Linked DNA regions of Homo sapiens. The protein of the gene in region 1 interacts with the protein of each later gene in a biochemical or structural test. Each region holds a gene or a part of one and is shown in the gene's direction. Other genes may lie near its edges.

Region 1 (3,752 bases):
GCACGCGCTCGCGTGTGTGGGAGTGGGGTGGAGATGGACAGCAAAACCCTTTTTTTTTTTTTTTTTTTTTTAAATGGAGGTGGGCAGTGGGAGAGATCACTAAGATAGAGTCCTCCCGGGAGCCAAACCTCTCGCCCGGTTGATTCTGGCAAGCCTGAGACAGGCAAACTGTCTACTTTCCTGTTTTGATGTGGTCCGAAGAAATAAACAAGAAACAAGGAGAGACCCTTCCTCAAACTGTAACTCCAGCCAATTAGCATGAAAAGCTCAAGAAGCTATTAACCAGAAGTTTCGGCTTTAGGGGACCAGGGACTTGCCCGAGGCCCTGGCATGCGCGGCGGCTAGGTTTAACTTTCAACTCATAGTGACCTTTTCCTTAATTTAATGCAAAAAATCTTTCCCAGAGGTGGAGATTTAAGATGCTAATGATACATACGTCCTATGAAGAAGCATGTTAAACCACCATGCATGCACCAGAAAAACTCCACCTCTACATGCCCTGTCTATAGTTCTCCTTATTTCCCCTTACGGGAGAGGCCCGTAAAAGAAACCCACACCCTGACTTCGAGGAACAGCCCACTTTTTTTTTTCTTGGTGTTAGCTCCCTTGTGCGCACAAGCTTTAATTAAAAGAAAGAAAGAAAGAAAACCAAAAAAACTTGCTTTTTGCTGCGATATCCCTTGATTTCTGTCCTGAAGGATCCAAAGAGCCCTCAGGGAGTCGATACCAGAGCCGTATTTGTTTTTGCAGCAACAGGTTGGCTGCGGGCTCTTCCCCCGCCTTCCAAAGCCCTCAGCCCCTGGCCCACCCTGCAACTTACTCATCTCTCCAACCCTCCTCCCCTAGAACTGCTGCCTCCTGTGCGCAGCCCCTAGCCTGGGCCTGATTCCAATTTCTGTAACATTCCCCTGCCCGGGATTGAATACAGGTTGAAAGTCGGTCTCCTCCGCGCCCCTGAGGCCCAACCCCGGCGCTGAAGCCTCCCAACTCCTGTGTGCAAAGGAGACGGAGACTGAGGGATCTGGGCGCTCTGGCAGGCACAGGAGGGCTCCCCGCCCGTGGCCTCGCCGGAGATGCACCCGGCTCCCAACCCAACAAACCCGCTTTGGGAGGGGATGGGGTGGGGAAAAGAAGACGGGGCTCGGGGCTCGAGGGGAGATATAGAGAAAGCAAGTTAGGTAGAGGAGATGTCCCAGAGGACCCCATTTTCGGGACTGCACCTCCCATTGGAGCTCCCCGCTCCCAAGCCCTCTGGGGACTCCCGCGCTGCCGTCGAAACCCCTATTCCGGCCCCAACGGGGACACTTCTCCAGGATTTGCTCCTCGCCTGTGGGGACCACAGCCAAAGACTCCTGGAATCGATCCCAGATCCTGGGAGTCGGGGGGCCCAGCCGGGGTGCGGGGAGTCGCGGCGTCGTGACTGCACCCGCCCCGCCGCGCCGGGAGGCGCCCCTGGCGACCGTCGCGAACGCCACACCCTCGGTTCGGCCCTGGCCCCGCCCCCGCCCAGAGCGCGTTCGCGGCCAGGGGAGGCGTGTGCTGCTCCCGCAGCCAGCGAGAGCGAGAGAGGGATGGATGTTGGAGGAGGAATTCGGGCTTAACAAGTGATCGCTGCTGTCTAGGATTTTGTTTCTTTTCGGGGGAACCTTGACTTCCTTTCCCAGGCAATCCCTCCTGTGCTGAACTCCAGAGGAACCAGGAGTCTTGGGGTCTTCTCTGGGGCAGCCCCAACCCCCACCCCCAGGCTCCAGCCGCGAGGACTCTGTGCACCCCTCGGGCCAGGCAACAGAACTTGTTCCGTGGATATTTGGAGCCTCCACCTGCCAAACCCGAGTGATTCCTTTTACCACCCCCCGCCCCCCACCCAGGATCATTCTTCCCCTCCTCCAGCTGTTGCAGCTTGAGGGGGAAAAACAAGCCAGCCGGTGGATTTTCTTTATTTTTATTTTTCGCCCCGCCGGGGAACGGTAAGTATGATACCTTTTTTTTTTTTTTTTTTTTTTTGTATCTTTCCTCTACCTTCTTATTTTGGCTGTTAAGAAACAGTGGACATTTGAGGGATAAATAATATCGGGAATGTGACAGAAGGGCATGAATGGAAGGCGGTTAAAAATAAACCAGGAGGTGGGAGAAGGGAGGTGCGGATGCTGCGCGGCGCTCCGGGGGGCCAACAGTTGTTATTTTCCCAAACCCGGGGATGCGGTGAGTGCGCCCTGCTTAACGTGCTGGAGCGGGAACCGAGGTCTGGAGGCGAGGGCGCGATTAAAGATGTCGTTTCCCAACGAGAGGGGGGTTAAGATTTAGCATCGTTTCGCCTCCTCCCAGCCGCACCGGTTCCCTTCTTTTGGGAACAGCCGGTGAACGGGTCTGAATTGCTGCCTCTTCCAACGTTTGGATTTGCGTGCATTTTCCGAGCATTTGAGCAACATACATAGGGGCTGCATAAATGGCGTGCGTTGAAGTGTATATTTCTCACGGTGGTGGCTTTTCTGATTCCCTCTCTCAGTTTCTCTCTCTTTCTCTCTCTCTCTCTCTCTAAGGTTCAGGTACCACCCTGACAGTGACACAGTTGCAGGAATTAGCACTGAGAGACGAACAGCCTTGTTGTTGGAGGGGTGAGAGGAGGAGGGGCGGGATGCTTGGCTGTTGTTTGGGGGCGCCGGGATTGGGGAATAGGTAGTCTGCAAAATCCTATTAGTTTAATGGTGTTAAAGAAGAAGACAAATTCCTCTGCAAAGATCTCTCTCATAAAGGCTCCTGGGAATTGGCTTGAATAGATTCTCCTAACAAGAGTACCTTGAGAAAGAAGAGAGATTTTAAACCAGTCTGATTTGCTGGGAGGAATGATTTTTCTTTTCTCTTCTTTTCTTTCTCTCTCCCTTTCTTTCTAGATCAGGGATAGTGAAGTAACTAGTAGATGATTAAAAGGAAGGCAATTTGCTACTTGTAGGGTGGAGGAGGGAGTTAGATAAACAAAAACTAACAATCCCAAATAAATAAATAAATGTGAAATTATTTGGTGTAGAGCAGAAAGAGGGCAGTTCTAGAACTCCCGAAGAGCTGATGGTGAATTAGAAGACTCGCTAATTCATGACCTTCTGGGAGTCAGTTGGGTGGGAAGGCAGTGTGTGTAGTATTCAACTATACAGGAACTTGGGTTACATTGGGGCTTCATTGAAATTATAATTGTTTTAGGGGAGTTGGGGAAGAAACTGAGCAAACTCTCAGGCTATTTGGTCTGTACCGGTCTTGAAAGGATGTTGGCCTGACACTCCACTGCGAATGTCACCCCAGGATGGTTTTGTAAGTAGGGATTTGGAAACTCCTTGAGGGTAAACATTTCAGAGTATGAGATGATGTTAGGAGTCAGGCAAAGGAAGGGAGATGGCATGTGAGATGCCCTCTGTGGTGTATTTTCTGGAGTTTGTGTTGCAATCAAATGCCCTTCTTGCCCTAGGAAAATATATATGATTGGGAAGGGGTGTATGATTGGGAAGACCTCTGTTTGCCACTTCCATGCTTGTCACTTCATAAAATTCAGTGTGTTTAGGCTTTTAGGCTGACAGGATCAGCAAGGAGCAGCAGGTGGTCAAGAGCTGAATCCTGTTAATGGCTTCAGAAAGCCATTTCTCTTATGCTTTCCAAGTGCTTCCAGTAATAGAAGCTGGTAGATGCCCTGAATTCTGACTATCATCATTCTCTCCAGTTCTCTGGGTTACTCCCTGCATTCTTGGAAGTCCTGTTGAACAGAG
Region 2 (3,652 bases), on another chromosome or scaffold:
CCACAGACGGGGGAGTCTTCCATACACTCCTATTTTTCTCAAAATGAAGACAAAGCTGATCTCTCAGCATCTCCTGCAGGCCCTATGTTCATGCTCTTTGAGCCCTCACCTCACCGTGCTCCTTCCTGCTGCAGGGACTGCAAGAGCCTGGGACCTTCTCCCCCTCCCCACTGATTACTTCATCCTGTGGGTCTCAGCTCCATGATTGCAGAGCCTTTGCTCACCTTCCTGACTTGAGTTAAATTGTTGCTATAAATGTTCATGCCACCAGATCTCTCTCCATTATAGCACTTTTCCTAGTGGCAATTTTGCAGTTAATTAATGTAATTATTTGTATTAGTACCTGTCTCCCGGCTACACTGTAAGCTGTGTGAAGGCAGGGTCTCTTTTTTAAAAAAACTTTTTCTAAGTTTTATTTTTTTTTCTTTTAATGTTTTATTTTGATACAATTCAGACCCATAGGAAGGTTGTAAGAATAAATCAAAGAAGTCCCATAAATTCTTCACCCAGATTCCCCAAACATTACCATTTTATTCTTTTTATTTTATCCCTGTGTACATATATATCTATCCTGAACCATTTGAGGATTATTTATCAATGCCTCCTTTCCCCCTACATATATTTCCTAAAAGCGATGATATTCCGTAACTACAATACAAATTTTAGAATCAATAAATTAATAGTGATACAACATTGTTTAATCTATAAACCTCAAGTTTTATATACTTTTTTTTTTTTTTTTGAGAGAGAGTGTCCCTCACTCTGCCACCCAGGCTGGAGTGCAGTGGTGTGATCTCAGTTCACTGCAACCTCCGCCTCCTGGATTCAAGCAATTATCCTGTCTCAGCCTCCCAAGTAGCTGGGATTCCAGGCGTGTGCCACCATGCCCGGCTAATGTTTGTATTTTTTGTGGTGACAGGGTTTCACCATGTTGGATGCTGGTCTCGAACTCCTGACCTCAAGTGATCTGCCTGTCTCAGCCTCCCAAAGTACTGGGATACAGGCCCGAGCCACTGCGCCCGGCCTAGATGTTAGGTTTTGCCAGTTGTCTTAGTGATGTCCTTTTTTATAGCAAAAAAAAAAAAACTCTTATAAATGGGTTGCGTACGGTTGTCATGTCTCGTTAGTTTCCTTTAAACTAAGACAGTTCCCCAATTGTTCTTGGTCCTTCAGGACCTTGACTTTTTTTGTTGTTGTTGTTCCAAGATGGAGTCTCGCTCTGTCGCCCAGGCTGGAGTGCAGTGGCTCAGTCTCAGCTCACTGCAGCATCCGACTCCTGGGTTCAAGCAATTCTCCTGCCTCAGCCTCCTGAGTAGCTGGGATTACAGGCATGTGCCACCACGCCCGGCTAATTTTTTGTATTTTTAGTAGAGACGGGATTTCTCCGTGTTGGTCAGGCTGGTCTCCAACTCCCGACCTCAGGTGATCCGCCCACCTCGGCCTCCCAAAGTGCTGGGATTACAGGCGTGAGCCACCATGCCCAGCCAGACCTTGACGTTTTTGGAAAGTACAAGCCAATTATTTTGTAGAATGCCCCTCACATTGAGTCTGTTTTAACTCACCATTTTGTCCCCAGTGCCAAGCACAGTCCCTGGACCATCAAATGCACTCAGTAAATATTTGTTGAATGAGGAGAGGGAGAGATGGAAGGAGGTGCAAGGGGAAAAGTCAGCAGGTTTTCTGCTTTCTTCCAGCCCCACGCCTTTCCCTGCTGAGTGATGTGGGGTTTTTTTTGTTTTGTTTTTGTTTTGTTTTTTTTGAGATGGAGTCTTGCTCTGTCACCCAGGCTAGAGTGCAGTGGCGCGATCTCGGCTCACTGCAACCTCTGCCTCCTGGGTTCAAGTGATTCTCCTGCCTCAACCTCCCAAGTAACTGAGATTACAGGTGTCCACGACCACGCCCAGCTAATTTTTTGTATTTTTAATAGAGATGAGGTTTTGCCATGTTGGCCAGGCTGGTCTAGAACTCCTGACCTCAAGTGATCCACCTACCTCGGCCTCCCAAAGTGCTGGGATTATAGGCATGAGCCACCCCACCCGGCCTGGATGTTGTTATTTAGTTGCAGTCATACTGTATACAGGTTTGAATCCTGCTATTTTTATAACAAAGCTTTCCCCAAAAAAGAGAGGCTTCCTGAGAAGATAGTGAGCCTGCTGTCCTTGCAGATATACAAGCAGAAGCCAGATGATGGTTTGGCAGGGATACTGGAGAGGCAAATGGAATGTTTGATGAGGGGTGAGACTCATCAGGCTGGGCGTCCCTGCTAATCATGGGTAGACTTCTCTAACTGCAGCACTGACTTCACAGGCCTAGGCCCCCAAGAACAGTGCAACTAGAATTTATCATCCCAACCAGAACAATTTGAGAATAAAAAGGGGTCCTATTAATAATTGCACATGACTGACGGGTCTAAGCCGGGACTGCCCTAGGTAAATCCGGACGTGTGGTCACGTCCGGATTTAAGAGTGACTTCGAGGTTGAGATCAGTGCAGGGTGAGCCAGCATGGAAAACCCTCTAGCACTAGGAATCTTCTACCTGGATAAAGACAAAACTAACCTCTGCATGGCCTGCAGGCCTGATGTTTGTGGCTTTGGTCCCCACACCTCTGTGGTCCCACCTCCAGTAGGATGCCACTCCCAGCTTTGTGCCTGCCACACCGGCCTTTTGTCAGCTCTCACCTCACTATGGTACCTGTCTGCCACAAGGACTGGCAGAGTCTGGAACGTCACTCACATACCCTGGCTGGATGGAGGAGCAGGGACAGAGTTTATGATAGATGGACAGGGAGATGAACAAGCCAGCTGTGCTTCCCACTGACCAATTTCTAATAGAATTTAAGAGCCAGGGTGTGTAAGCAAAGAAGGGCAGGAGGCGGGAGTCACCCTAGACCTTATCTTCTTTCCTCTAGTGCTCACACTTCCACCTCTTCTTCCTGCACCAACGCCCACATCCCTGTTCCAGCCCTAGTTCTGAGATGATGACTAAGTCACTGACCTTTGGCAAAGGCAGGGAAGCAGGTGGCATTGGGGACCCAGGCAGAAGAGGATGGGCATTGGATGGACAGTAGATGCAGACAGGGACTTGGATGCAGAGAAACCAGGCAGGAAACCAGCATCTAGGGATCCCAGTAACAAGGTCACTACAGGGCCATTTATCAGGAAGTCTAGATTTGTAATATCAAGTGACCAGACACTCGGTCAAGGGGTCAGGCTCTGGGATCCATACAGTCTGGTTCTTTAACTTATTTTCTGCCTAGAAGAAAATACAAACCTTGCCTTCCTGGATTACAAATTATTATAGGATGAAAATGTGAAGATAATGGAGCTATTTTCTGGGAAGCATCCCAGTCATGTGAACTTTAAGAACACTGTCCAGTGCAGTCGTGTTTTTATTACTCTAGGCATCAGCAGCTTTAATGGAAAAGCCAGTTAGTAAAGGAATGTTCCGGTTCCTAGAATGCAAGATACTAGTACTGCTGAATGTTGGAAAGATTTTCTGGTTAACTGTGTTATTAGATTTTACTGCTTAAAAATGTACTTTCAGCCTGGTGCGGTGGCTCATGCCTGTAATCCTAGCACTTTGGGAGGCAGAGGCGGGTGGATCACCTGAGGTCAGGAGTTCGAGACCAGACTGGCCAACGTGGCAAAACCC
Region 3 (3,652 bases), on another chromosome or scaffold:
TTCATCCTTCAAGTTCATGGCCATCACCCATCACCATCTGAGAGTACTTAGTGCTCAGAGTAACTGAAAGGAAGCATAAATCCTCCTTGCTTTGAACACAACCCAGGGTTTACCGTATGTTCTTGTCCTGGCCAATGCTAATCAGCTCTTCCCCGCTTCTTCCATCTTTAATGCTTGTAAATCAAGCTGCCCCAGTATTAGTCACCACAAAAGAGATAATTAGTAAGTACAAGCTGCTACCTTCATAGATCACTCTGTCTCTGGCTCAAGCTAAGCCAAGAGACTGGAGAAAGCTAACATTACACAGTATGAGTTGCATTAGCAGAACCTTTATTACACAAAGCACGTGAGTCTGAATACTTAAATCAAGAATCTGCACCCTCCCCAGCTGTTGTAAGAACAGCTGTGATATGAGACCAAAGGAAAGGCTACTTACCTACCTTATGAGGTTTTCCTTTCCTGGACTCAAAAACTTATCTTTAGAACCCCAAGAATTTGAAAGTGCAATGGTTTCTTAATGGCATAATCTTGGGATTCAGATATTTTTAAAATACTGTAACCCCCATTGATGGGGCAGCAGAGAAAGGTGCCAGTTTCTTTTACTAGGACATGCTGTGTCCTCCCAACAAAGCCATGGCTTGTACCTTTGCCAGCCATTTGTCCAGCTGGAAAATAACGTTACTATTCTGGCAGGGCACATGGTCAAGAGCATTGCTGCCTCCTCAGAAAAGACCATTTCCAGACCAGCTAGGAACTTCCTTTCCATGCACTGCTAATCAGATACTACCAGCCTGCCTGGAAGTGTTTCATTCAAGTATTTGTTACGTTGGAGCCGCTCAAATGCAAGTTGGCTTTTATTTTTTCCATCACACAGTGTTTCACCAATTTTTGAGTTTCCCAGATCAACCTCTTCACTATGTTTAAACAGAATGATTCCAAGCCAACGCAGCTAATCGGTACAGTAAAACCTCACGAATTCAAGCCAGGAATTTGAACTCTTCCAGCTGAGGACAAGCACTAGCAGTGTAAGTTGGAGGCCTGTTTTCTCATCTAGAAGATGAGGACATAAGGTTGTATAACCAAACTCCTTTTCTACTAATATTAAAACCACATTTCATCTAATCTAAGATGCCACTGACTATGAGAGGTATGTTCATATAACAGCAAAGAAGATGACATTTTAAAATGTGCCATCAGTTAAATAATCCCCAAACACCAAAGATATCCCCATGATGCATAGATTGGTGAACTAGACTCTTGTGGCTTTGAAATCCATTCAGATGAATTTGGCAGCTTCTCCTGCCCTTGGTTGTGTTGCTTGGCATGAAATAGGCAATCCTTTTTGAATGTTCTCAATAACAAAATGTAACACCACTTTTAATTCCCTTGGGTGCATCTTTCTAAGCAGATAAAACATTTGCTTGTCCCTTTGCAAGAAAACACAGAATTGTGATTCTGCTTCTAACAATGAATATGTACTTCATCAATATCCAATTGTTCTGTTTTTGAGGCTTTCTATAACTTTTCATTTTAGTACTGAATCATTACATTCAAATGGCAATTAAACTCAATGGTGTAATACCAAGTATGTAGGCAACTCAATGGAAGTGATAAGGGGTACTCGTGCGACTGGGTTTGCAGTGCTGGGATGGTGACGTCTGCATCATGACTGCCACCTGGCAACAGAAACTTCACAACCCCATCAATCACACATGCATCCTGATTTTAGACATGTTAAAGCATGAAAAGAGCATCTTAGGATGTACAAAATATGGAAATAGCGACAATCTCATGAGAACTGCTTGTAGTCATGTAGATACCATGACGACTTTAATGAATTTGCATTCTAGTACTTTTGGCAAAAAGTACTAAACCCCTGATAAGACTTAATGTCGATCAAACCTCACAGCAATCCAGAAAGTATATGCAAATTTGGAAGTTTAGCCAGGTAAATAAAATTTCCCTAGATCACCCAGCTATGTAAATTTCAGAGCAAGGATTTAGATCTAGACAATAGGACCTTCCATCTTGCCATTTCTATGATTCTATGGGCAGTAAAAATCATGTGTGCATATCACGGTAGACTGACCTTTGATTTCATCTACTTTCAAAAACATGAAGCATCCCTGAAGTAGGATCTCAAAGGGCTATTTAAAATAGCTCAATCATATAGGGTTTTGAGTAATGAATTGATAAGAATTTATAATTAACACATCCATTATATGCAAATGGACACTTCCTAAAGGGGCTCGTGATATGATTTCTGCCTTCACAACTGTGGAAACTGGAGTGGTTACCTGTAGCTACCCTCCCCACAGTAGAGTGAGATAGTTAAATCACCATTTCCTGACCAAAACCTAGCCTGTGCGCTGCAATGACTTGCCGAGTGGCAGTGTTCATGTTCATGGCAAAATATGGACCTAGATCAGCTCCAACCTTGGTCTTCTGAGCCTCGAGAATGTTCTTTTTCAACTTCTTTCTATTGCACCAATAACTTGCTTTTCTCACAAAGTTTGGTTTTTGTGGAGTTTTCTGGATTTTTTTTTATAGCATGGATAGTGAATGGGTAGAGACAAATATGTTTTTGCTAAAAACCACAAAAGCTGTTTTACTCTCTTAATGGTAGACAACATGGCAATGAATGACACTTCTCAGATCATGGGAGCCCCCAACACCAGGGAGGCCCTCCCAGACCAGCCCAGAGAAAGAGAATGGAAGCCACCAAGCTGCCACTAGAGGATAGCAATGCTGAACTCACTCCTGTGGCTTTGTGGTGAGGGTGATTCTGTTTGCATGAACAGTTAAATATGGAATCTGGGAGGAGCTTTATATTTACGTTCAGTGCTCTGGGAACAAAATCCAAAAGAAGAGTGAGGGTGTGACTAAGGGCTTTCATGGTCAAAATAAACACCAGCAAGCAGGAATTACCAAATAGTTGAACATTGCCAGCCTCAAACCCTACTCATGTAGACACCATGGTGACCTGAATAAATTTGCATTCCAGCAGCCAATGTAGAGATTGCTTTAAGAGAATGCAGTGGGCGTCTTTAAAAAATCTCAAATTATGAATTCACTTGGTTGGCAAATGTATATTGAGTACCGATGTGTGAAAAGGGAAGAGAGGATATAGCGGCAGGCAAATCAAATTCCAAGTTCAACAAGCCTATTATACATTCTTCAATTGTATTTGAAGAGGGCTGACTGAGGAATGGCAGCAGAGCCAAAGCTCTTCTTCACCTCCCCGCTGGTTCTGTTACAGCTGTAAAGGTGCCTCCCACTACGGCCTGACCAAAGATAGGAAGAGGCGCTCACAAGATGGCTGTCCAGACGGCTGTGCGAGCCTCACAGCCACGGCTCCCTCCCCAGAGGTTTCTGCAGCTGCCACCATCTCCTTAATGACAGACGAGCCTGGCCTAGACAACCCTGCCTACGTGTCCTCGGCAGAGGACGGGCAGCCAGCAATCAGCCCAGTGGACTCTGGCCGGAGCAACCGAACTAGGGGTGAGTCAAATGGGTGGTTGTCCGGGAATGGGCTCCTTGGCTTGCGATTGCCCTCTGTGGAATACTTACTGTGGAAAGTTCTGTAAATGTTTTTTAAGGGGAAATCGTTCTGGTAGTTTTGGCAGGAACCCAATGTCCAATTCGCCAAAGT

What was found.
Region 2: the proteins of KCNA4 (region 1) and PTPN3 interact in a test that uses a peptide from one of them, tested with the Homo sapiens proteins (one large-scale study listed by IntAct).
Region 3: of the proteins of KCNA4 (region 1) and LNX1, one has a biochemical effect on the other in vitro, tested with the Homo sapiens proteins (2 studies listed by BioGRID and IntAct, with this or other methods).

The regions. Positions count from the first base shown.
Region 1 is NC_000011.10:30,014,787-30,018,538, reverse strand, and holds the start of KCNA4 (potassium voltage-gated channel subfamily A member 4), read left to right. Parts: upstream 1-1,508; 5' UTR 1,509-1,967; intron 1,968-3,752. UniProt on the Homo sapiens protein: Voltage-gated potassium channel that mediates transmembrane potassium transport in excitable membranes. Forms tetrameric potassium-selective channels through which potassium ions pass in accordance with their electrochemical gradient.
Region 2 is NC_000009.12:109,488,290-109,491,941, reverse strand, and holds part of PTPN3 (tyrosine-protein phosphatase non-receptor type 3), read left to right. Parts: intron 1-3,652.
Region 3 is NC_000004.12:53,507,835-53,511,486, reverse strand, and holds part of LNX1 (E3 ubiquitin-protein ligase LNX), read left to right. Parts: intron 1-3,259; coding exon 3,260-3,501; intron 3,502-3,652.